Homo sapiens: one gene and its partners. The protein of the gene in region 4 purifies or fractionates together with the protein of the main gene of each other region. This does not show direct contact. Each region holds a gene or a part of one and is shown on either strand. Other genes may lie near its edges.

Region 1 (3,500 bases), on a different chromosome or scaffold from region 4:
ACCCAGGAGGCTGAGGCGGGTGGATCACTTGAGCCCAGGAGTTCAAGGCCAGCCTAGGCAACATAGTGAGACCCTGTCTCTATGTTCTAAAAAAGACCTAGTTACAGTATAATCACATGAACACTTATGCTATCACTTCTTTCTAAACCCAAGTTTAGATAAGACATATTTAATGGATGTTAAGCAAAGAAAATAGAAAATAAGTTTAATTTTCGAAGAGAAAAATAGACTTACTTCTTCTGCTGTTTGAGAAGGTTCTTCAGGTAAATCAGGAATCTAAAGAAAAGTATTGGTAAGAGGAATGTAAACATGTTCAACAAGCAAAAGTGTCAATGAGAAGAGTTCCTCTCAATACAGAGTTTAGACACACATCTAAGCTTACTTATATCTTTTCTTCATACATCTATAAAGAGTTTATAATGAAAATAGTTCAATTAATAAACATTTTTGGGCAAGTGTGCTAAAAATTAATCATAAAAATAGGATTTGAGATAATAGCTCCCAATCTATACATACTTAAAGGATTTTGCTTCTATTATGTTCCAAAATATTACTAATATATAAAAATGCACTATGTAAAAAAGCAAGCCAGATGCAGTGGCTCATGTCCGTAATCCCAGCAACTCAGGAGGCTGAGGCAGGAAGATCACTTGAGCTCAGAAGTTCAAGGCCAACCATTGCAACAAAGCAAGACCCTGTCACTTTAAAAAAAAAAAAAAATATATATATATATATATATATATGATTGTGTATGCATATACACATACATACATATAAAAACAGGATAAATGTTAACATGTATCAGCTGGGCGCAGTGGCTCATGCCTGTAATCCCGACACACTGGGAGGCCGAGGCAGGTGGATCACTTGAGGTCAAGAGTTCATGATCAGCGTGGCTCACATGGTGAAACCCCGTCTCTACAAAAATACAAAAATTATCAGGCATGATGGCGGGTGCCCATAATCCCAGCTACTCGGGAGGCTGAGGCAGGAAAATCGCTTGGAACCCATGAAGCAGAGGTTGCAGTGAGCTGAGGTTGTGCCACTGCATTCTGGCCTGGGTGACAGAGCAAGCCTCCATCTTAAAAAAAAAAAAAAAGAAAAGAAAATTCAGTAAGACCCCAAAATTATTTTGCTTCAAACATATACATATTTTATTTTATTTTATTTTATTTTATTTTATTTTATTTTATTTATTTATTTTTCTGAGACGGAGTCTCACTCTGTCGCCCAGGCTGGAGTGCAGTGGCGCGATCTTGGCTCACTGCAAGCTCTGCCTCCTGGGTTCAGGCCATTCTCCTGTCTCAGCCTCCCAAGTAGCTAGGACTACAGGCGCCTGCCACCATGCCCCGCTAATTTTTTGTATTTTTTAGTAGAGATAGGGTTTCCCCGTGTTAGCCAAGATGGTCTCGACTTCCTGACCTTGTGATCCGCCTGCCTCAGCCTCCCAAAGTCCTGGGATTACAGGCGTGAGCCACCACACCCGGCCCATATACACATTTTAACATGAATATGAACTTTTTGTCACTCACACTCCTAGGTGACTGCCAGAAACCATTCACTTTGGTTGCTTTTGTCATTTACTCATGTTTCCCTATTTCCATTAATCTATTAAGAATCCAGATATTGGGCTGGGTGTGGTGTCTCACGCCTGTAATCCCAGAACTTTCGGGGGCTGAGGCAGGCAGATCACCTGAGGTCAGGAGTTTGAGACCAGCCTGGCCAACATGGTGATACCCCATCTCTACTAAAAATACAAAAATGAGCTAGGCGTGGTGGCGCACACCTGTAATCCTGCTACTCAGGAGGTTGAGGCATGAGAATCTCTTGAACCCAGGAGGCAGAGATTGCAGTGAGCCATGACTGTGCCACTGCACTCCAGCCTGGGTGACAGAGTGAGGCTCTGTCTCAAAAAAATAAAAATAAAATAATCCAGATATTTAGACCATTTTCTTTCATTAAGACATTTGTGGCCGGGCGTGGTGGCTCACGCCTGTAATCCCAGCACTTTGGGAGGCCGAGGAGGGCAGATCATGAGGTCAGGAGATCGAGACCATCCTGGCCAACACGATGGAACCCTGTCTCTACTAAAAATACAAAAAATTAGCCGGGCGTGGTGGCGGGCACCTGTAGTCCCAGCTACCCGGGAGGCTGAGGCAGGAGAATGGCGTGAAGCCGGGAGGAGGAGCTTGCAGTGAGCCGAGATCACGCCACTGCACTCCAGCCTGGGTGACAAAGCGAGACTCCGTCTCAAAAAAAAAAAAAAAAACAAAAAAAACAAACAAAAAAAACATTTGTTACCAATGACTTCATCTCCAGGAACTCTTTATTAATACCATAGAGTATATTTTATAACATTTAATCTAACCTTACCTGCATTTGCTAAATAACTCATTTGTTTTCCTTTGGTATCAAAAGCATATGTGACTGTCAAGTAAAATCTGCCATCAGCATAAGACAGTGTCATTAACAAAACACAAACATGAATTTTTAATCAGTCCGTTTAGTTCATATCGATCTTTTTCAAAGGTCAGTGATAGTTCAATAATCTGATTCCCCTGCTCAATCTCCACTATGGGACCAGGAAATCTCAGATTGAGAAGCAATATCTTAGAAACTATTTTCAGGGAATAGACAGCCTCCCAGCTTTCCCTAAGGGCCAGTAAAAACAGATTTCTTATTTCTAATCTTTTCCAGCTCCAATTGGAATTAACTTAGTTAAGGATTGAAGATTTGAATGAACAACATGTATAATAAACCTGGGCACTAATCCAAAGTGACTGATTGCTAATCTATTCCCTAGAAGGGCCAGTAAGGAAAATTATACACTCATGTTAATAACAGCTATTAGCCACTCACAAGATAGGGCTTGATAATGTTCTTAAGTTAATAGGAATGCTTCCCTTCGTAAGCATTATATTTTTCATTTTTACATAATCAAATTCCTTAAAAAGAATTGAGTATTTTCGGCTGGGCGCAGTGGCTCACGCCTGTAATCCCAGCACTTTGGGAGGCCAAGGCGGGCGGATCACGTGGTCAGGAGATTGAGACCATCCTGGCTAACATGGTGAAACCCCGTCTCTACTAAAAATACAAAAAAATTAGCTGGGTGGGGTGGTGGGCGCCTGTAGTCCCAGCTACTCGGGAGGCTGAGGCAGGAGAATGGTGAGAATGGTGTGAACCCAGGAGGCAGAGCCTGCAGTGAGCTGAGATTTCACCACTGTATTCCAGTCTGGGCGACAGAGTGAGACTCTGTCTCAAAAAAACAAAGAAAAAATATCAATTCTTTTTTTTTTTTTTTTTTGAGACGGAGTCTCACTCTGTCGCGCAGGCTGGAGTGCAGTGGCGCAATCTAGGCTCACTGCAACCTCCACCCCGCTGGGTTCAAGAGATTCTCCTGCTTCAGCCTCCTGAGTAGCTGGGATTACAGGCGCCTGCCACTGCACCTGGCTAATTTTTGTATTTTTAGTAGAGATGGGGTTTTACCATCTTAGCCAGGC
Region 2 (3,500 bases), about 94 Mb from region 4:
AATGTATAGAAATATAGTTGGTTTCTGTATATTGACTTTGTATCTTGCAACCTCGTTAGGCTCATTTATTAGTTCAAGTAGGGTTTTTCTTGGGGTGGATTTCTTAGGCCTTTTTACAAGTAGGATCATGTTGTTTACAAATAAAGACTGACTTCTTTTCCAGTCTGGATGCCCTTCTTCTTTCCCTCTTGCTTTGGCTAGGATCTCCAGTACAATGCTAAATAGAAGCTGTGAATGTGAACGTCCTTGTCTTGTTCCTGAACTTAGGGTGAAAGCATTCAGTCTTCCATCATTAAGTGTGTTAGGTGTAGGGTTTTCGTAGATGCCCCTTATCAGATTGGTAACTTTATCTTTTAATAGTTACAGCCACTCCTTTCTCTCTGTCCTTATGTCCTTTTTTCCCTTTATAAGCTCTAAGAGGGCAAATCCTGGATTTTCATGATAGTGTCTGCTCATTAATATATACATGTTGGGTTACATGCTTGGATTAATGAATTGGCAGTCCTTCTCTAGCCAAGCTGGCGATCTTGTGGCAGCTGTGCATGAGAATCTTATTCTTCCAGGCTTTAACACAGACCTGTTCGGGATGTGTGCGGCAGACTTTGTTTTCCGCCATGTGGTTGCCTAGTGAAATGCTTCTGAGCTTGCCTCCTTGACTGTTTCAGTTTGAACATGGAAGTTCCTTATGATATGTTTTATATGATTACTTTTCCTGTTCTTTCTTTTGTTCTTGCTGGATGTTAAACTCTGTGCTTGGGATCCTGTTCACTCTAGAATGTCTGCTTTTTGGTTGCAGCATTCATCTTAGTTGACTCACTTAAAGGCAGTGTGGGAAACAGAAGATCCCAGACCTGGACTTATGCCCTGACACTTCAGAAGGATGTGTCTTTCTCCTTATGTGCAAGATAGAGATATGATGTAGCATCTCCATGCGCCCATTTAGCATAGACACCACGAAGGGGTTGCGTTATAGATCGTCTCTGGTCTTCCACAGCTGTAAAGCTCACCTGGCTGTTTGGATGAGTGCAGTTTGATGGAGCCCGCATCAGGAATTGCCAGCTTGGAAAGCCAGAAAACAGGCAGCCAACTTCTCTGCTGCTTTTCAATGAACAGTATCTGCTTCTGATTTCAAGTCCAACAAATGGTTCTTGAGTACACACTGTGTGCCGGTTTCTGGGCTAGCTGCTTTCACATGTGTTATTCTGTTTGATGCTCCTGAATCCATCACATGTTCTGACAAGTGCTGAGGCATTAGAAAACAAGGTAAAGCAAATTCTGCAGGGAAGCACAGTACTTTAGGTCTCTCTACCTTTTCCACCTCAGCTGCTGAGGAGTGGAGGCTCATCTTAAAGACAGGATGGTTGAAGGCCCAGACACCTGCATGTAGATTTCCCGCTGGTGCGTTCCATTTTTCTGCCTTGGTGGTTCTGAAACTCACTGTGTGTGAGAATGACAGCAGGGGACTGTCTACACAACCACACTGTACTTTAGGTGCAGAAGGAATCACTCTCAAGGGTTTAGTTGAATATCCTTTAAATTTTATCATAATATAGTACAGCGTAACCAGTAATACAATCTAAGTAGTACAAGAGTTAAAAGTTATTTCCACCTTCTGACTTCAGCATATGATCCTCATATATGATGAAATTCCATTACATTCCTCCTTTCTTGTATCACAGTACAATGTTGAAGGTCTCTGTATGTAAAAGATAAATCTATAAAATAATATAAATGTAAGGTTGTTAATTGTAACCCTTACTAGGCTCATCTCGGGCCAGTTCCCACATTTGGAAAGTAAACGTGCTGCACTGGAAGGCAGCCTTGATCCTCCCAGGCTTCAAGTGCTGCCTTTTCCCTCTATTGGAAGGGGTCGCTCCTGCTCTCCGCAGTGGCACTAGTGTCCAGCATCAACCACCGTCTCTGCCCTTCCTGTGTCTGGTAGGAGCTTCTGACCGTTTCTGAGCCTGCTATCCCTTCTGTGCCCTGTTCCTGGCCATTCTCTTTCATCCTCATTCATGCACCCATGACTTCTGGATTCTAAATATCCAACCCAGAGCTTTCTAAATGACCCTGCCAGCACCCCCGTGCATGTCCCATGGGTACATTTAATTGACTGTGTCCAAATGGGACTCACCCGCATTTCTTCTCTGCCCCCTTAGAGATGACCCTTGTCTCTTCTGTTGTGAGTAGCTCTACTATCCAGTCCTTCATCCGGAAAGCTGGCGGTCATCCACGTTCCTCTCTTTCTCTATATTCATGACAAGTCTTGAGCTTTACCTTACAGCAGTTTCTCCGTTTTGTTCTCTCCTCTTTGTCCTTCCTACTCTCAGTTCAGGCCTATACTATCTTCCCCTTGACCAGCTGACAAATTGTTCTTTATTAGCTTGCTTCCCACAAATCTATACTTTCTGGTGCTACCAGGCTATTTTTTTTAAAAAACGCAAATTTTACTTTTGAACAGGTTTCCAGGAGATGGTCATTAAATGCAGACAGTTAAAAAGGAGTTGCCCGGGGAAAAGCTTGTCTCCCTTCCACTGTGTTTTGTCAGTCCTGCTCCCAGAGGCAGCCCGTGACCAGCTTCTTGTGTCCCGGGGACTGTTCAGAGTTGAGGCTGATTGTGTCACATCCTTTCATGTCTCCCCCTTGCCTCTTGGTTAAAGGCATGTTTCCGGGCCTGGCTCACAAGGTCCTTCATGTGTGGGCGCCACTTTCTGCCTTCACTGCGCCTCCCTGCAGGGACACTTGATCCTGCGGGACCCTAAGCTGCTTCATGCATGTGTGCCTGTGATTCTCCTCCTTTGGCTGGCCAGGTGGAAGTGTTGCCTTCAGAAGGAGCCTTTGGTGGTGTCCCCTGCAGACTCTGTGGTCCCCTCCCAGGGCTTAGTGCCCTGGGCCAAAATGATCTATTCCACACTTACTTCCTTTCTGCCCCATGAACAGGGGCCACATCTTCTTCGTCTCTCTGTCCCCAGCACCTAAGCCAGAGCTTGGCACAAGTCAGTAAAATACTTGTTGGATAAAAGTTTAAGCCACTGGCTCAGTTTTTCTTGCCTCAAACTATGACTCCAGAAACTTAATGATATTAATTGATTTTAAGTAATTGCCACCATTTAAAAGTTGGGAGGCTTTAGATCGAGACCATCCTGTCTAATATGGTGAAACCCTGTCTCTACTAAAAATACAAAAAGTTAGCCGGGCATGGTGGTGGGTGCCTGTAGTCCCAGCTACTTGGGAGGCTGAGGCAGGAGAATGGCATGAACCTGGGAGGCGGAGCTTGCAGTGAGCTGAGATCGCACCACTGCACTCCAGCCTGGGCGACAGAGCCAGACTGCATCTCAAAAAAAAAAAAAAAAAAAAAAAAAAAGTTGGGAGGCTTTACATAAAATTTATTTTTAGCTTTTTTGGGGGAACAAATGGAAAGTCTGCCATTCTTGTGTGACAACACTTTGCTGGAGTTGCAAAGTGGCTACACTCTTCAGGTGGCTGTGCAGTCTCATTAC
Region 3 (3,500 bases), on a different chromosome or scaffold from region 4:
TGAAGGCAAAAATCTAATGGAAGTAGATTTAATTGAATGACAATTAATGATGGTAAATTTAGATAATGCTTAAGATGCCTTCTATCCAGAGATGTAAAACGATATAAATTTAGAACTCAGGTAAATTTAGAAAATAATCTAATTCCAGAAATTCATTTGTTACTGAATTCTGTTTCTGAAATGAATAACTCAAAAGAAAACAAAATCCATTAGTAAAAATCCTTGCTGAATGATTCTAAACATATTAGCAATTTACATCACATTCTGACTCAGAAATTTCTGATTCTTTTGTGATAATACATAGTGGTCATTCGCTACCCCATGTCAATGTTTTTGTTATTAAAGAAGAAGTTTAGAAGCACAGGACATTGAAAGGAAAGGCAGAAGACTGGGAATAAGAGATCTAAAGAGGATATGTCACATGTGAGGGGCAGCGGGAAGAGAAAGGCAGGTGTTAAGATGGCTTTTTGGCTCAAGGGCAGCATCGCCCCTAGAAGTAAAGGAAAAGCAGCCCTCACAGGTAAAAAGACAAAAAAACAGAAAGTTTAAAATATTTTTATTTATTTCGTAAATATTTTAAGATACTTACCTTGCTTGAACCTCCACTTCCTATCTGCTTTAATATGGAATAAATTCTTCCTTTAACCGAAATGCATTCATTTGCTGAAGAAGATGCTAAAACCTAAATAAGTAAAATATATAAATAAAAGTTAATCAATATACCTAAGAAACTAGCTTACATTTGGTACAGTCAACTGCTCCCCATTTTGAAATTATCTTAAATCTTAATTAGAAATGTTACAATATTTTTAAAAGGACTTGCTCTACTTAATCAAAGAAAAAAAACCTTAAAAAATAATGTAGACAAACTTCCAAGGTCTCCCCCTTTAACTAGTTTTGACTTAAAAAGAAAATTTAAGGAGGAAAAAACCACTTAATATGCAATCTGCAAACTTATAAGCTTAAAAATATATATAAAAATAAAATATAAAATTATATTTTTCATTTTTCTTTTCTATTCTTTTTCCTTATACCTCTTTACTTACATATGTACATATACACACACATAATTATAGCTGCATTCTTTTCTTTTTTTTTTTTTTTGAGACAGCATCTCACTCTGCCTCCCAGACTGGACTGCAGTGGCATGATCTCGGCTCACTGCACCCTCTGCCTCCCAGGATCAAGCGATTCTTCTCCTCAGCCTCCCGAGTAGCTGGGATTACAGGCATGCCACTACCATCCGGCTATATCTGTATTCTTCTTTCTCATTTAGCGTTATATTATAAAGGAAGCAATGTGCTAAGGTGCTAAGAGCTCCAAAGTCAATGAGACAAATGCAAATTTCAGCAATGTCCCTGATATGGTTTGGATCTGTCAAATTTCATGTCAAATTGTAATTCCCAATGTTGGAGGCGGGGCCTGGTGAGAGGTGACTGAATCATGGGGGTAGATTTCCTCCTCAGTGCTTCTCTGAGAGTTCTCAAGAGATCTGGTCATTTAAAAGTATGTGGCATCTGCCCCCAACTCTCTCTCTCCCTCCCACTCCAGCCATGTGACATTTGCTCCCTTTCACCTTCTGCCATGATTGAAAGTTTCCTGAGGCCTCCCCAGAAGCCAACCAGATTGCCAGCATCATGCCTACTGTACAGCCTGTGGAACCATTAGCCAATTAAACCTCTTTTCTTTATAGCAGTGTAAGAACTCATTAATACAGCCCCCAACTTTGTCCTGAGTGATGTTCAACAAGTTACTTAATTTTTCAGAACCTCAGCGTCTTCCCCAGCAAACTTTCAGTTGATGTACTATACAACCAGCCCCATCATTCCTTCCCTTATATTGGAGGATCTCTCTGTGTACCTATAAATGCTTTGAACAGATGGAGTGCTGAGAGGACTTATTCTGAGCTGATAAAGAAGGTGAAACAAAAAGACCTCCTGATTAGCTGATTAACCAAGTTAAACAAGGTCTGAATAAACCTCAATTTAACTAAGGCCTGCTTTAGGTTCCAAATGGTAGAATCTCTCATGTAATCTCCTATTTAAATAAAAAGATAAGTATTCTAATTTTTTCACCTCTAGGATTGAGATACATTGTCTATATATATTTCCTGTAACAAAGTATTGGGCTTCTAAACATGTATGTGTTGTAATTTCATCAAGGTTTCCCCACTCCTCCTTTTGTGCCTTCTCTGTCTTCTTCCTTTCATATTTAAAACTGTGAACATTGCCAAGGGAAGAAAGCAGTTCAATGTCCTTTCTCCACGGCTGCTGACAGTTTTTAGAATAAAGTAATTCTTATTTCTGACTCAACACTAATGTGAACTCTGGTTTCCTCCACAGGACTTCCCGCATCCCCCTTAGTATGCCCTACTCACTGTGGTTAGAGTTTCCAAAATGCAAATTGGATCATTTCACTTCCCTGCTTCAACCTCTTCCAAAGCTTCCCACCCTCTTAGGGTAAAACTTAAGGGCCCAGCAAACCTTGGGCCTCACTCCTTCCCCTTCCTGACCTCTAGCCACACTGTGGCCTCGTTTCAGTTCTCTTCTGACACTGGCCTCTTCTAGAAGGCTCCACCAAGCCCCTTCACTTGTCATCTGTGACTCGTCTTCTGGATTGCAACTCAAACAGGGCCTGACACTAGTAATAGCTAAATAAATGTGTTTTGAATCAATGCATGAACAAACTGGATCATTTTTGTTTTTCCTTTGTAATTTATTATATTGTTTCAATCCTTAAAACACTATCACCTCTTTCCAGTTAGTATCTACTGTCAGCTCATTATTTTGTCCATTATTCTTTCAAACTGTGCAAATTATACATAATGCAAAATTTACCACTTTAACCATTTTTAGGTACAATTCAGTGGCATTAAGTACATTCAGTATGTGATGATGAAAAAGTTCTGGTGATGGATGGTGGTGCAAATACCACTGAAACTCTATACCCATTAAACAGTAACTCCCCATTCTTCCTCCCTTCCCTGACAACCACTGTTCTTATTCTGTCAGCTAATTTTTTTATCAGTTGATTTTTATAGTTAATTACTCATGGGTTTTTTATTGTTTTATTTAAATAACAATTGCTACTAACATTTCTGATTTACTAAGTGTCATGCTCTGTATTAGGAGTTACGTCTATATTAACTAATTTAATCTTCACAACCATCCTAGGAGGTAGTTAGCTTTACTAATTTTATAGATAATGAAATGGGCACCGAAAATTTAGGTAACTTGCAAAAGATCACACAGACTGTAAGTAGTGAGGCTAAGATTCATGCCCAGTGTCTCCAAGGCCCATGTTTTCTACCAGTATTAAGCTGCCTCTAGGACAGTTACTAGAAACCAACTTTTGCCTCATCAGCAAAAAATCTTTCCTCTTAGTTTAGTTATTAGTATAATACATTCTAGCAGTACCTCATATTGCTATTCTGATATTTTTGAAAATTTACATTTCCAAATGAATTGTATACTAACAAACAAAATGAAGCTGCTCACTAG
Region 4 (3,500 bases):
ATATCTTAGTCTCAGGAATGGGATTGCAAAGGTTTGAAACAGACACACTCCTGTATCCCCAGATAAAGAATCAATGGGTCCATATTTCATGACATCCAAGAAACCATCAATTATAAGCAGTATCCTGATTCAGATATTAAAACATGAACAAAAACTACCCATTATAATCAATAAAACACAGTACGTTATTTAAGGTGATCATTAACATTTGGAATTTTTTTAAAGTATTTTTAGTTTAAAAGGCTCATACTACTGATGACAGTTTCAACCAGTAGAACTTTGGGGAAGATAACTTCAGACTATGTCACAAAACCCTTAGATTTATATACCCTTTAGCCCAACAATTCTACCTCAAGGAACTTTTCCTCAAGAAAAGCACTGGACAAATGTGGAAAGACAGACAAAGAAAAAGATTGCTACAGCACTGGTTATGCTAGTAAACCCTAGAAACACATTAGTTTTAAAATAGAAAACTGGGGAAACCAGGTATGGTACTTCTTTACGACAGAAAACGGTAATAATTCAAAAGGTCCAAGACCCTGAAAAATGTTCACGGCATAGTAAAAGCAAACAGCATATCACAGATCAGTTAGAAAAAAATCATGAGAAAATATATGCAAAGAAAAAAGTATAAAAGGAGTTTTAGAAAGAACTGAGAAAATGGAAAGAGAAAATTCGAATTAAACAAAAAATCTTCTGGCCGCAACGGCTCATGCCTGCAATCCCAGTGTTTTTGGAGGCCTAAGGAGGAGAACTGCTTGAGGCCAGGAGCTCAAGGCTAGCCTAGGCAACACAGTGAGACCCCCGTTTCTAAACAAAAAATTAGCTGAGAATTGGCAGTGCATGTCTGTAATCCCAGTTCCTCAGGAGACTGTGGCGGGAGGACTGTTCGAGCCCAGGAGTTCCAGGTTGCAGTGAGCTATGATTGTGCCACTGCACTCTCCAGCCTGGGTGACACAGTGAGACTCTGTCTCAAAAAAACTCCTTAGGTAAGATCTTGGTTGGTGTGCAGGGCAAGTGCAGGTGGTTCTGCAGCCAGAAACTATCAAACCTTCTAGCTCCCTGGACCTGACCTTCCACAGCTCCCTCTCCTCACGTACTTGTCAGGGCGGCGCAGGGGGCAGCTATGTTGATCAGGAGTGAATTCAAAGTTGGTCTACCATGAACTGGAAGATGCTTGAATACTCATCCCTGCTGCTATAATATCTTGGCAGAGAAACCATTAATTCTCTGTCTGGCATTTGCTGGAGTTAAAATATACCAAAGGAAAAGGCTGGAAGCAAAACAGCAAAACTGGAAGCTGAAGAGAGGCATCAATGAGAGAAGGAGATAACTGAAGAGTAATCCAGGGTATTTTGCTAAGCATTTCATGCACAGCTGTGTTGTTTGGGTCCTGACAACTCTATGAGATACTTTCGAATTGAAAGAATGGCTCACACTGTACATGGTGAAGAGCAGAACCAGAAACTGAACACAGGTCAAATGCATTCAACCACAGTGAGCTGTACTGCCTTCCTGAATTCACAATGTAAAAGTCAGTCTGAGTGGACTGCAGCTGAGAAGAGAAGACAATTATCCAAAAATGTGTCCGAGGATACACTCCCAACCTATACTTTTAAAAGAATGTGATTTTTTTTTTTTTTTTTTTTGAGACAGGGTCTCACAATGTTACCCAGGTTGGAATGCAGTGGCGCAATCCCAGCTCACTGCAACCTCGACCTCCTGGGGTCAAATGATCCTTCTGCCTCAGCCTCCCGAGTAGCTGAGACTACAGATGCCCAGCACCATGCTGGGCTAATTTTTGTATTTTCAGTAGAGATGGGTTTTCGCCATGTTGGCTGGGCTGGTCTCAAACTCCTGGGCTCAGGCAATCTGCTGGCCTCAGCCTCCCAAAGTGCTGGGACTGCAGGTGTGAACCACCACGCCTGACCAACAATGTATAAATGTTTATTTTTATAAACTTTTAAGAGAGCTATCATTTTATTTTGGTTAGGTGAGGTGGCTCACACCTGTAATCCCAGCACTTTGGGAGGCTGAGACAGGTGGATCACTTGAGGTCAGGAATTCGAGACCAGCCCAGCCAACATGGCGAAACCCTGTCTCTATGAAAAATACAAAAATTAGGTAGGCTTGGTGGTGCACGCCTATAATCCCAGCTACTTGGGAGGCTAAGGCACCAGAATTGCCTGAACCCAGGAGGCAGAGGTTGCAGTGAGCTGGGATTGCACTACTGCAATTCCAGCCTGAGTGACATTATGAGACCCACTGCACTCCAGCCTGGGCAACTGAACCAGACTCTGTCTCAAAAAAAAAAAAAAATTGTATTTTGTTTACTAAAATACCTTTGTAAAAATGGGGAGGAGTCTCCTGAAACTTACGTGAATTTTCCTTATTTGAGAGAACACACCAGGTGCCCAGTACACTGGGAGAAAACACACTCATATGAAGGCACATCATTGTGATATTTTAGATCTCTGGGAAAAAGAAGGTTCAACACATTTCCAGAAGTCAGGGGGTAGAGGGAGATAAATAATTGAAATAAAAATTTTTACAGCCAGGTGCAGTGGCCCATGCCTATAATCCCAGAACTTTGGGAGGCCGAGGTGGGCAGATCACTTGAGTTCAGGAGTTCGAGACCAGCCTGAGCAACATGGCGAAACCCTGTCTCTACAAAAAATACAAAAAAATCATCCACCAGGCATGGTGGCCCATGCCTGTGGTCACAGCTGGCTTGGGAGGCTGAGGTGGGAGGATCACTTGAGCCCAGGAGGGGTAGGTTGCACTGTGATCATACCACTACACTCCAGCCTGATGACAGAGTAAGACACTGTCTCAAACAAAACAAAACAAAATTAAATCAGAATAGCTAAAGGACAATAAAAGAATACATTTTAAATTCTGAAGAAAAACATTTTCAGTCTAACACTCTCTACCTAGTTGAACTAGGAATTGTGTATAGAATCAAGCTATTCTGAAAGGTGCAAATTTCCATTTCCACATGCATGCTTTCTTAGAAAACTACAAGAGGCTGTGTGTCCCCCCAGTGGGAGCAAAGCAAGACAGAGGACACTGGACATGGGAAGCAGAGGATCCAACCCAGGAAAGAAAGGAAGAGAATCTTCAGAGTGATGGTGCAGGAGAGCCCAGTCGGCCAGCTGTGTGCAGGCCACCAGGCCAGAGGCTCCCAGAGAGGCCAGTCATGAAGACGATTCTGACAGAATACCTGATGTCTCTCAGCTTCTTGATAGGAGACTTAAACAACTAGGGTTAAATTAGTGACTAAATATCTGGAGAAATTATGAAATGAGAAAAGAGAATTACTAACACCAGGGCAAACAAGAAATTGGGCAGGAAAGGAAAAGCATTCATAGTCTACGCACTGGGTCAGTTGTAAGTGGTATTTACAGTGTCATAGGTCAACACTGGCTGCTGATCTAACCCAAATCACCTGAAGACTATACAGATGCCCCTTGACTTAACAATGAGGTTACATCCTGATA
Region 5 (3,500 bases), on a different chromosome or scaffold from region 4:
GCTGTCGGTTATTAATCAAATTCTGACCATTTGGGGCTGTTACAGCAGTTATTGCATAGCTTTGTGTATTGTCTCTAGAGATAGCAACCTGACTTCCTATAAGTCTGACATAACAGGCTGGTTTCCTGGTCTGTTTATTTTAGATAAAGGGCTGGTTTTCTGGGCAGACTGCTGTAAATTTTGAGTCAAAGTTCTATTTTTATTTATGGTCTGACCATTATCTCTTCGTATATTTAGTTTCTCAACTTTCACAGGAAAAAACAAAACAATATATTGTTCAAAAACAGACTATTTTCACAATAAAAAGTTATTGCTTTTGTATCTTAACACGACAATGTAAGTATCATTTCTTTTTTTTTTTTTTAATCAGTTGAGTTTTGTCTATATAAACAAATTTTCCTACTGGGGAGGTGGAGACGTGTGGGAAGAGACCTCACATCAAAACCTCCTAACGATGTGACTGCCACTTGAGGAAAAGTCACAATGGTGCTCCTCTGAAACAGAATGTTCTGTGTGGTTGGTGCAGAATTCTCTGGGGACACCCCTCCCTTGGGTTTTGACATGTGAACCCTCCTCAGTCACCACTAGGTACACAAAGCGTCCTTGCCAAAAATGCAAGACAGCTCTACAAACCTTTTGTTTCAATAAGGAAGAAATGTGTTTCAAAAGATTCGACTTGATAGCTAACCCAGAATTTCTTATGAAAGGCTAGTTTGTATCAAATAAACAAATACAACTTACACTTGCAAATCTAAATATAAGAGTGTCTTTAAACAAATATGAAGAACACTTAACTTTTTTTTTTTCTTTTTGAGATGGAGTCTCACTCTGTCACCCAGGTTGGAGTGCAGTGATGCAATCTCAGCTTGCTGCAACCTCTGCCTCCCAGGCTCAAGTGATTCTCCTGCCTCAGCCTCCTGGGACTACACACACCCACCACCACACCCGGTTAATTTTTGCATTTTTAGTAGAGATGGGGTTTTACCATATTGGCCAGGCTGGTCTTGAACTCCTGACCCCAAGTGATCCACCTGCCTTGGCCTCCCAAAGTGCTGGAATTACAGGCATGAGCCACTGCACCTGAACAAGAACACTTAACTTTAAAAGGAGAAACACTGCTTTTTTCTAGGAATTAAAAATCCAGATAAGCTTTGCAGAAATAACATTTTGGACTGAATTGGTCCACAGAAAGTACACAGTCCAGGCCTCTGATATAACAGATGAGGATACCAGGGTATGGGGCTTGGAATATAGAATGTGCTCAAACTAGAACTGACCCATGACTGAATGGATGCTTCAATATTCCCAAAGTTCACATGGCTAATAGAAAGAGTTTTACTAAATTTCAACATGACAGAACTCAACTGACAGTTTTTTGGGCACGAAGTACCAATTATCCAAAATAAACTCAATAGTCCACATGCTCATGATCTCCCAGTCTACCGGGTCAAACATCCAAAGAGCAAATATACTTATAAAGTAATTATTATATACAATAATAAATTCCAAATGAAAAATGACTTGGAAATACTGCAATAGGAGTATGTACGAAGCACAACATGCTGAGAAGGAGCCTGTAGGTTAGCCTTCTGGGGAAGAGAAGGGTTAGCCTAAGCTCGGTACTGATAACTAGGGTCTATCAATTAAGGCATATTATGAGGAAACCTCAGCACTAGTGAAACCCGAGAGTAAAAGCCACTTCCACTGCCCCCTTCCAGGAACAGAAACCGAAACATAACATCAGAAAATTTCCAATCACCACCCCACTCCCAAATACACGTAGAGTGATTATTCCAGTTCTCTGAACTGGGGAGGGCGCATCTTTAGCCTAGACGCCCCTCTGGGTGACTAATGACAGGTGAGCACATTGAACAAGGTGACTCCTAAGACAAGGCTGTATGTAGCCAACATCTTGAGAGCAATCTGAAGTTGGAGATTTTACTACAGCCAAGGAGAAAACGGAGAAAAATACTTGAGAAATGTGTTAGCTGTGTTGTTATTCTTAATAAACGGTAACGCTGGTCAACGACCTGAACACTGCAGTGGGCCCAGGTCAAGCTTGACAACATGTAAATTTTGCCCTCTCTGCCCAATGCCTCTCCAGGGCTCCCAGCCCCAACGTCTCTCTGATTACAGCCCCAGTGAGACCCACCTTCGCTTCCTCTAGAGATTGAATGGCCCCTACATCCTCCAGGCCTTCCTGAAGCTCAAAAATGTCCAAGGTCCCATCCTTGTTATAGTCCAGGTACCAAAAGAGATCTCCGTAGAGGGAGTCCATCGAGGATGTCTCCCTCGCAGCTCCGCGGCCTGAGTGAGCCCCAGCGGGGTGGAAGTGCGACCGACGAACGGGATCTCTGCCCACCACACACGTCCAGTGGGAAGAGGCCTAAGACAGCATCCTCCTCAGGGGCGCCAAACACAATGCACCTTCATCGGTTAAAGCTCTGGAAGGAGAGGGCTCATCCTAACGGCTTCAGCGCAAAGGCGCGAGCGCGCAGGACCCGGGACCTGCGTGGGACCGCACTCTGGGCTGCGCTGGGAGACCGCGGAGTTCCTGCCTCACTCACGTCTGATCAGAAGCCCCGGCTCCCACTCCAGGAAGAGTCCAGTCGGGGCAACTCAAGCCCCTTTCCCCAGAAACTTCCAGGGAGAACCCAGCACAGGGCCATCTGAAAGTATAGCTTCTCTTTTGGAGAGAAGTAGGTTGGGAATGTTGGGACATGGGCTATTGCAGCATAAGTGACTGGCGGTGGCGGCCTGCCAACATTTAAAAAAAATTGTTTGGCTGCACCTGTCTAGGAATCCTTCTTTTTAAAAATCCTTATAATGATTTTTTAAAATAAAATAATTTTATTGTAGATTCAGGGGTTACACCATCAGCTTGTTACAAGGGTATACTGTGTGATACTGGGGTTTGAGCTCCTAATCGTGCCATCACCCAGGTTGTGAACAAAGTACCCAGTAGGAAGCTTTCCAGCCCTTGCCCTCCTCCCTCCCTCCCCCCTTTTGGAGTCCCTAGTGTCTATTGTTCCCATCTTTATGCCCCATTTACCCAAGGTTTAGCTCCCCCTGTAAATGAGAACACAGTATTTGTTTTTCTGTTTCTACAATAATTCGTTTAAGTTATTGGCTTCCAGCTGCATTCATATTGCTGCAAAGGACATGATTTTGCTCCTTTTTTATGGCTGCATAGTATTCCATGGTGTGTATGTACCACATTTTCTTTATCCAATCTGCTGCTGATGGGTACCTACATTGTGTTGTAGGAATCCTTTTCTAAGGTTGCAGCACTGGAGAATTGCTGTAATAAAGACTAGGAATTGAATGAAAATCTGCCCACATGGGCCCTTTCTTCTGTGACACCTCCCCTCACAGTTTTTTATCTTTTATCTTCATCCAACCACTACAATGGCTCCAGGGCAAGCCTATCCTTCAGCTGTTAGTGGCTGGATTGGAAAGATGATCTCAAAATAGGCAAAAGTTCAGTGATCTTGGGTCCC
Region 6 (3,988 bases), on a different chromosome or scaffold from region 4:
TGTAGAGGGGGAAACGGGCTAAGAGAGGCAACTGGTCCCAGATCTGTCTGGCTTCAATTTGAATTTTTCTTTCTTTTTTTTTTTTTTTTTCCAGAAGGAGTCTCACTCCGTCACCCTGGTTAGAGTGTCCTGGCCTGATCTTGGCTCACTGCAACCTCCACCTCTTGGGTTTAAGGGATTCCCGTGCCTCAGCCTCCCCAAGTAGCTGGAATTACAGGCATGCACCACCACGCCTGGCCAATGTTTGTATTTTTAGTAGAGATGGGGTTTTACCATGTTGGCCAGGCTGGTCCCCAACTCCTGACCTCAGGTGATCCACCTGCCTCAGCCTCCCAAAGTGCTGGGGTTACAGATGTGAGCCACTGCGCCTGGCCAGATCTGTCTGACTTCAAAGCCCCAACCTCTCAGCTGTATCCTCCTTGGGACTGGGTCTGGAGCCCAGAAGACAGAGATGGCCAAGGGGTCACTGTGTCCTGAGTTACTTTGGATTCCAGACCCCCAGCGACTCACCTGTGCAAAATTTTCTCAGCCTGCTCCAGCGAGATGGAAATGCCCAGAGCTCGGAAACTCTGTTGGATCTCAGAGACATCAATGTGACCTGGGGAGGGGGCCGGAGGTGGGGAAGGATGTGCGTGTGAGGACACCTGGGGAACCCCAGGACCAAGGATCAGAACAGCTTGGAATGGAGGTGGTCTAGCAAGATCAGGGGCTCCAGAAACCTAGGAGGAGGTTTGCAGTAGGGCTGTGGGGGGACCCCTGACTCACTGGGGTCAGAGAGGTGGAACTGGGAAATACTGGGGGGGCTTCTCTGTTCTGTAAATGAATGAAGGAATCCAGGGGTAATTGTAGGGGTCTCTATGCCATGGGGGATTGAGAGGCAATATCCACAACCCAGATGCTGCTATGAGGGGATCTCTGTCCCACAGGGGACCCAGGAACAGCATAGGGTATCTTTGCCCCATAGAAAAATCTAAGGGTAATTATCGGGGTTCTGCCCCAGTAGGGAAAGGAGGTGGGATGGGCTGGCTGGGCCTCGAACCACCTAGCTAGGGGGTGAGGAGTGCTCCTGAAATAGCCTATGAGTCATCGGGGAGAAGCGGCCCTCCCCCTCTCCTCCTAGCGCTGCCAGTTCTAACCCCACTGATGTCTCTAGGGCCCCCACAGCCCTATCCCTTGGGGCCTGCAGGCAGGTCGCCCGACCTTACCATCCTGGTTCCGGTCAAGACTGTGAAACATGAGCAGCAGACGCTGTTCCCGCTCCTGCAGATAGCGGGAAAATTCCTCCAGGTCGAGCCCGCCATCTGGGTCAGCATCACCCTCAGAGGAGATACCCTGACAGAGGGAAAGGGGATAGAGGTGGCTCCAGGAACCTGCTCCTGATCTGGAGGGGACGCATGTCACCTTATGCCTTAGGAACCCAGAGCCCCCAGCGCCTTGAGGAAGGGGATAGAAGACGTCACCCCACTTCTCCCTCAGTCAGCTAACTTCTCAGCCAGATCCCTACAGCCACCACAGGTCTGTGCGGTGGGTGTGAGTGGTCTAGTTTTCCTGGTGAGCAAACTGAGGCTCTGCAAGGTCAAGTCACCAGTTCAAGGTCACAGAACCAGGAAATGGTAACCTCAGTTCTCATCTGTAAAGCCTGTCCTTCCAGCTGTCTCTTGTTTTTAGTTTTTGTTATTTTTTTAGGTATCTCATTCCTGTTGAACCCAGCTGCCTCTTAAAAAACCCTGTCCACATGGGGGACCCAGGGGTTCCCTTTGGAGGAAGCCCTGGGCGATGTGGGGCAGGAGAGAACCAAGCGGAGTGGCTGAGGCCTTGGTTTTTCCCATTTGGGAAGTGGGAGGTTGGACTGCTCTCAGGGTTGCTGTGGTTCTCTTAGAGCGATCTGGGGCTACAGGTGTGGGAAGGACCTGCAAAGTGGAGGTGGGGGCAGCGGGAGGAAAGTCTTGTTATAGGTGCATTCCCAGCTGCGGGTGACCGCAGACAGGATTGGGTCCCTGGCTGGGGCAGCCCGGGACAGTGAGCCAGGCCCGTGAACGGCCCATGAAAGGGCAGGCCAGGGAATGTAAACACAGGGATCGGGGCAGCTGCAGGCCAGGGCAGTAGGTGCCCAGAGGATGGAGGGTGTGTCTCCTGGAGGTGAGAGCAGGGCACGTCATGGGCTGTGCAGTCTGGAGGAGGGTGTGTCCCGGGCAGTGGGCAGGAAAGCGCCCCCATCTCTTCCCAGGCAGACGCCCCCTGCCCCGCAGCAGGGGGATCGGGTGTTGGCCGCGGAACTGCAGGCTTGGGGCCTCGGCGTCCCTGTCTTGAGCGATCCCGTTAGGCCAAACACGAGTGGGTAGGGGGAACGAGACAGAGACACAGGTTCTGGAGTCCAGCCACAGGTAGTCCCTGGTGGCTCCGGCCGCCCAGTTCAGGGGCTTGGGTAACCGGGAGCGGGCGGGGCCGGGAGGGGAGGAGGTCCCTGGGGGTGGGGGTACCTGTTGGGCGCCGGGGTCTGGGTTGCCCCCGCCCAGCCTGGCCAGCCCCTGGCGCAACTCGTGCACGTCCACGCGGCCATCCTTGTTACTGTCCAGCTCCTCGAACAGGCGACCCCAGCGCTGCCGCCGCTCCGCGTCGCCCGGGCTCCCCCGCATGGCGCCCGCCCGGGGGGGAGGGGAGGCCCGGCAGCGGCGGCCTCAGTGGGGGCTTCGCGGCTCCCCCTCCCCCCCCGGGACCCCGCAGGGTCAGCTCCCGCGGCCGCCGGCTCCGCAGCCTCCGCGCAGTCCGCTCGGCTCTGGCACTTGCGGGAGGTGGTGACGGCTAGCCGTCGCCGCCCGCGCCAGAACTTGCGTCTCCTCCCCCGACCTGCATTGGGGGGAGGGGACCGAGGGCGGAGCTGGGGGCGTGGGGAGGGAATGTCTGGGATGGTCTGGTATTGCACAGCCGAGGAACACCAGAGTTCCTTCTGGGAAGACGGGCTAGGGAGCTCAGTGGTCTCAGGTCTGGTTTCAGAGTTCCGCCTCTGCGTGCCTCAGTTTACCCTTTCCCCCTTTGCCCAAGGGGGCAAGGTAGAGCGCTGTCGGGGATTGGGTTTCATAATCCCCTTCCACTTGACCTCCCCGCCACACCCACTAATCTTCAGGAACTCAAGTTCTCGCTTTTCCCAGACGCACGCAAGAACCGTGCACCATCTCGCTCGCTCTCTGCCCGCCCGCGCCTTACACCTTCCCCGCTCGGCCGCAGAAACAGAAGATCCAGGAGCGATGCTCTCCCACTGTCCCTTCTTCCCGCCCGCGCGCTTCCTTTCTCGGTTCCCACTCTGACTGGGAAACAGAAAATCAACGCGCGGCGCGGCTGCAAAGTCGGTTTCCTATTGGTCAGCGCCTCCTGGGCTGAGCCCGCCCGCCCCGCCTCTTCTCCCACCTAGGCGGGGCCTCCCCGCAGACCCCCGACTGCCTCCAGCCCGCAGTCCCACCGCCTGCCAGGAGATCTTAAAGGGGCCGCGGCCGCAATCAGACGCTGAGCGGCGTGGGGAGGGGGTGGCTCAGTGACCCGGGCGCGGGGTTGAGGATCCCAGTGGTCGAGCGCTGGAGGCAGGGCCCCAGCCTGTCGCACTCGCTGCACCTGCGGAATGTCCCTACTGCTAGTTTCGGGCGCAGTTTCTCGATCCACCATTAGGGGGAAGGGAGCCCAGACCACTTGACAGCGAATACTCGATAACAAATCTCACTTTGATTCAGTGCTTTGCACATGCCAGGGCTTTTACTCACCTCTCGAGTCGTCTTTGCCAAAACCCTATAAGGTAGGTGGTACTGGCGTTCGCACTTTGCAGATAAGGAAGCGGAGGTTAAGTCATTCTCCCCAGTCCTGATGACCACTAAGGGGCAAAACAGGGTTTAAAGAGATCTGGGATCCTTAACCATCACTCTATACCCTAGAAAGAATTAATTATCTTTTTTTTTTTTTTTTTTTTGAAACGGAGTTTCGCTGTTGTTGCTCAGGCTGG
Region 7 (3,500 bases), on a different chromosome or scaffold from region 4:
TCACCCAGGCCTGCTTGGTCCTGGCCACTCCGTCATTTCAGCGTTTAGGAAAGCTCCCGAGGGGAGCATGAGAGCCCAGGTTCCCCAGGACACTGGTTACAATGTTGCCGCCTGACCCACTGCCACCTCCGCCCCAGGCTTTGTGGGTGACACCCAGTAGTAGGAGGACTGTTCCTGCGTCACCCCTCTGCCAGGCTGGCTCTGGAAGTGACAGGCAGCCAGGTCGTGCAGTTTCATTCCCTGGGCCCTGGTGACATCACTCCACAAACCCGTCTGTCCCAAAAGCCAGGAGCCTGAGTCACCTCCAAGCAGATGAACCTACTGCAGTTTGAGGATCATGTTTATTTTAGCCAGAGAAAAAACAATCTCGCCCCAAATAAACTTTTCTCCAGGCCTCAGTCATTCCCTAGAATGGATGGCCATGAGCCTTTCAGACCTCACCAAGAAGACAGCATCAAAGAAGGGAGACCACTGGCCCCTGAGCATCCACTCATCCAGCCACTTACGACGCGGCCCTGCCTGATGACCCCAGGGTAGGTGGCTGGTGCAGGTCTGAGCAGTTGCTCAGGGAACTCGGCAAGGAGATGACACACTCCCACTTCTCAGGCGAGCCTGGTCTACACATGCGCCCACCCCATGTCTGTCTGCTTCCTCCCGCTCTGCTGGGCCAGCCACAGCGTGTCAGGGCAGATGTGGAAGCAGCGCAAATAATGTCATGAGGACTGGGCAGCACAGAGAGGCTTGGGCAGGAGGACGGCAGCGGGTGGCTGCACAGAGGAGGTGATATTCAAGTTAGCATCGCAGATTACCAAGTTGGGCGGGGAGGGGGCGGGTAAGGGCATTGCCAACAGAGCAGCCAAGGCGTCTCAGGTTAGCCGGCTGGGTATCCCTGTCCCTTGGCCAAGCAGGCCTGGACTCCACTCAGAGGCTTTCCACTTTAAGCTGCTGGGATCCAGTGGCCAGCTGGGTTTCATTCGCGAATGACCGGTGCAGCGCTGGCTGGGAGGCTGGCTTCTGGATCAGGTCAGAGAAGGGGCCTCGTCTGCGCCTGTCCCTATTCAGAGGGTGAGCAGTTCTGCCAGGCAAGGCTCCTGCTGGCTTTGTCTGCACCTCCTGAGGCTGTCGTCCCCCAGAATATCCTCCCAACCCTGGAGAGCCTTCATAATGTGGCACCTCTGGGCTCACTCTTCCAGGGAAGGGCTGTCCCCACCTGCCTGAGTCCCCCCAACCTCTGTGCAGATCCACTTTTCTCCCCAACCGCCCCAGCACACAAGGCCTCCGCTTACAGCTAATCTAAGGGCACCGGGCAGAGCTCAACAGGGAGCTTGTTTCTCTCTTTCAGCCCAGCCTGCTCTTCTGAACACAACATAACAGCCAACACTTACACGGCATTCACTACACACCAGGCACTATGAACACCTGTAAATTTCTTCACAACCACTCCAGGAGGTGTGTAGTATTATTGCCCCCATTTTGTAGATAAGGAAACTGAGGCAGAGTGGTGAAGGGACAGAGCCAGGGGCTGAACCTGGAGCTTGCTCTTGACTGCCCTACCATTCCACACGTGGCCACAGTTGGCATCTCTCCACCTCTTAGAGGGTACAAAGATGACTCGGACCTTCCTGGGGCACACCCCAAAGCTACAGGAACAGGCCAAATGGTAAGACAGCAAGCGGCGCTCAGGAATGTGTCATGGGCATCAAAACACATCAGAGACAGGGAGGGGGAGGTCAAGGATGGGTGGCCCCTTCCCACCCCAACCTGGACCAAGAACAGCCTCTGGAATAGCTCTGCCAGGGAGGCAATATGCAGCCCAGGGGTCGGGAAGTCAGCGGCCTGCCGGGCATCACCACGAGGGCATCACCATGTGGGCTGATGGGGTGGAACCGAGCAGAGGATGTCACGGGGCGAGACAGCAGTGCGCATGCCCAGGAACAACGAGCTCAACGCCCATGCCATGCTGCGGGCAAATCACTCCTATACACGTAAATGTTGCCCTTTTCTAAAAGCCACCAGGTGATTCTAACACTTGCATTGTCCGGCACGGTAGCCGCTGGCCGGTGCGGGCTGTGAGTATTGGAAAGGTGGTGAGTCCAGACTGAGATCAGCTGTGAGTGTCCAGTGCATACCTATTTCAAAGATTTAGTAGGAGAAAAAGAATGTAAATTCTCCTATTCATAATTTTTGTGGCAATTACATGTTGAAAGGGCTAGCTTTTGGATATACTGGGTTAAATAAAATATGCTATTACAGTTAATCGCACCTGTTTCTGTTGACTTTTCTAGTAGTTACTAGACAATCTAAAAGTACACACGTGGCTTGCCTCTGGTTCCTCCTGGACAACACTGCTCTACTGTGTGCCGGGGCTGAGAAGCCCTCAGTTGTCAATAAATGTTAATCTTGACAGGATTTTGGTTTCACGGGGGATGCTAAGCATGTATGTCACCAACCTGGAAAATTGGACCTATGAACTGTTTCCACATATTGCTGCCCTAGACAGTCCCTGCCCCACAGGAACCCCTTACACCTGGGTAGTTTCATGTCTACAGTTAATGCTCACCCGCCAGACTTGGCTCACTCAGCAGTGGCCAGAGGCCTTGCAGTGTAGTAAAGGGTTTCTCTCATCCTAACCTGAGAGGAATCTTCTGGGCTTGATCTCCATCCTGTGGGCCTGCAGTGGAAACTGAGGCCCAGTGAAGCAGAAAGGTTCACAGATCAGGAAAAGGCAGGACTCACCATTAGCATTTCCAGTACTCCTAACTGAGTCCTTCTTCATGATATGCTTCAAAGATGCTTTCTTCTCTAGATGTTAAACTTTTCAGCCGAGGAAGGGAAGGGAGAAAGACGGTTGGGCCAAGTATCTGCTGAGGCCCTTCTATGCCCTAGGTGCTCTTTCATGTTTACATACTGGATGTATTAGTTCCTTATGGCTGCCATAACAAATCACACAAACTCGCAGTTCTGGAGGTCGGAAGTCTAAAACAGGTCTCACAGGACTAAAAGCAAAGTGTCAGAAAGGCTGTGTTTCCTCCTGGAGGCTCTAGGGAAGAATCCATTTCCTCGCCTTTTCCAGGCTGTGGAGGATGCCCATACTCCTTGGCTAGTGGCTCCTCCCCAGCAGCAGGCAGTGAGTCTTTCTCACATGGACTCAGTCCGACCTCCTCTCCTGCCTCCCTTGTCCACATTTAAAGACCTTTGTGATTACACTGAGCCCACCTGGTAGCCCAGGAGAATCGCCCCATCTCAAGGACCATCTCAGCTGATGAAAAACTCTAATTCCACCTGCAACGCCTTACTAAGTCATTAACGTAGTCACAGGTTCTAGCTGCCACACGGTCTCTCTCTTACACCTTACAACAGCCCTATACGATAGCTGGAACGATCTGTATGGTTTTTTTTTCAGACAAGGACATAGATTTACAAGTTAAGCAACTTGCCAGGGACACAGGCTAGAGCCTAGGTCTATCTACCTACTAGTGCCTTTATGATACCACACCCTC

What was found.
Region 1: the proteins of CMTM8 (region 4) and UBXN8 purify together in Homo sapiens (affinity purification with mass spectrometry; one large-scale study listed by BioGRID and IntAct). This does not show direct contact.
Region 2: the proteins of CMTM8 (region 4) and CHCHD6 purify together in Homo sapiens (affinity purification with mass spectrometry; one large-scale study listed by BioGRID and IntAct). This does not show direct contact.
Region 3: the proteins of CMTM8 (region 4) and TTK purify together in Homo sapiens (affinity purification with mass spectrometry; one large-scale study listed by BioGRID and IntAct). This does not show direct contact.
Region 5: the proteins of CMTM8 (region 4) and SLC25A24 purify together in Homo sapiens (affinity purification with mass spectrometry; one large-scale study listed by BioGRID and IntAct). This does not show direct contact.
Region 6: the proteins of CMTM8 (region 4) and SLC25A23 purify together in Homo sapiens (affinity purification with mass spectrometry; one large-scale study listed by BioGRID and IntAct). This does not show direct contact.
Region 7: the proteins of CMTM8 (region 4) and HIP1R purify together in Homo sapiens (affinity purification with mass spectrometry; one large-scale study listed by BioGRID and IntAct). This does not show direct contact.

The regions. Positions count from the first base shown.
Region 1 is NC_000008.11:30,757,664-30,761,163, reverse strand, and holds part of UBXN8 (UBX domain-containing protein 8), read right to left. Parts: intron 277-3,500; coding exon 235-276; intron 1-234. UniProt on the Homo sapiens protein: Involved in endoplasmic reticulum-associated degradation (ERAD) for misfolded lumenal proteins, possibly by tethering VCP to the endoplasmic reticulum membrane. May play a role in reproduction.
Region 2 is NC_000003.12:126,710,740-126,714,239, forward strand, and holds part of CHCHD6 (MICOS complex subunit MIC25), read left to right. Parts: intron 1-3,500. UniProt on the Homo sapiens protein: Component of the MICOS complex, a large protein complex of the mitochondrial inner membrane that plays crucial roles in the maintenance of crista junctions, inner membrane architecture, and formation of contact sites to the outer membrane.
Region 3 is NC_000006.12:80,028,649-80,032,148, reverse strand, and holds part of TTK (dual specificity protein kinase TTK), read right to left. Parts: intron 683-3,500; coding exon 590-682; intron 1-589.
Region 4 is NC_000003.12:32,241,680-32,245,179, reverse strand, and holds part of CMTM8 (CKLF-like MARVEL transmembrane domain-containing protein 8), read right to left. Parts: intron 1-3,500.
Region 5 is NC_000001.11:108,190,344-108,193,843, forward strand, and holds part of SLC25A24 (mitochondrial adenyl nucleotide antiporter SLC25A24), read right to left. Parts: intron 2,493-3,500; exon of another isoform or gene 2,279-2,492; coding exon of another isoform or gene 2,153-2,278; intron 1-2,152. UniProt on the Homo sapiens protein: Electroneutral antiporter that mediates the transport of adenyl nucleotides through the inner mitochondrial membrane. Originally identified as an ATP-magnesium/inorganic phosphate antiporter, it also acts as a broad specificity adenyl nucleotide antiporter.
Region 6 is NC_000019.10:6,456,993-6,460,980, forward strand, and holds the start of SLC25A23 (mitochondrial adenyl nucleotide antiporter SLC25A23), read right to left. Parts: upstream 2,801-3,988; 5' UTR 2,637-2,800; coding exon 2,481-2,636; intron 1,333-2,480; coding exon 1,206-1,332; intron 599-1,205; coding exon 511-598; intron 1-510. UniProt on the Homo sapiens protein: Electroneutral antiporter that mediates the transport of adenine nucleotides through the inner mitochondrial membrane. Originally identified as an ATP-magnesium/inorganic phosphate antiporter, it also acts as a broad specificity adenyl nucleotide antiporter.
Region 7 is NC_000012.12:122,838,457-122,841,956, reverse strand, and holds part of HIP1R (huntingtin-interacting protein 1-related protein), read right to left. Parts: intron 1-3,500. UniProt on the Homo sapiens protein: Component of clathrin-coated pits and vesicles, that may link the endocytic machinery to the actin cytoskeleton. Binds 3-phosphoinositides (via ENTH domain).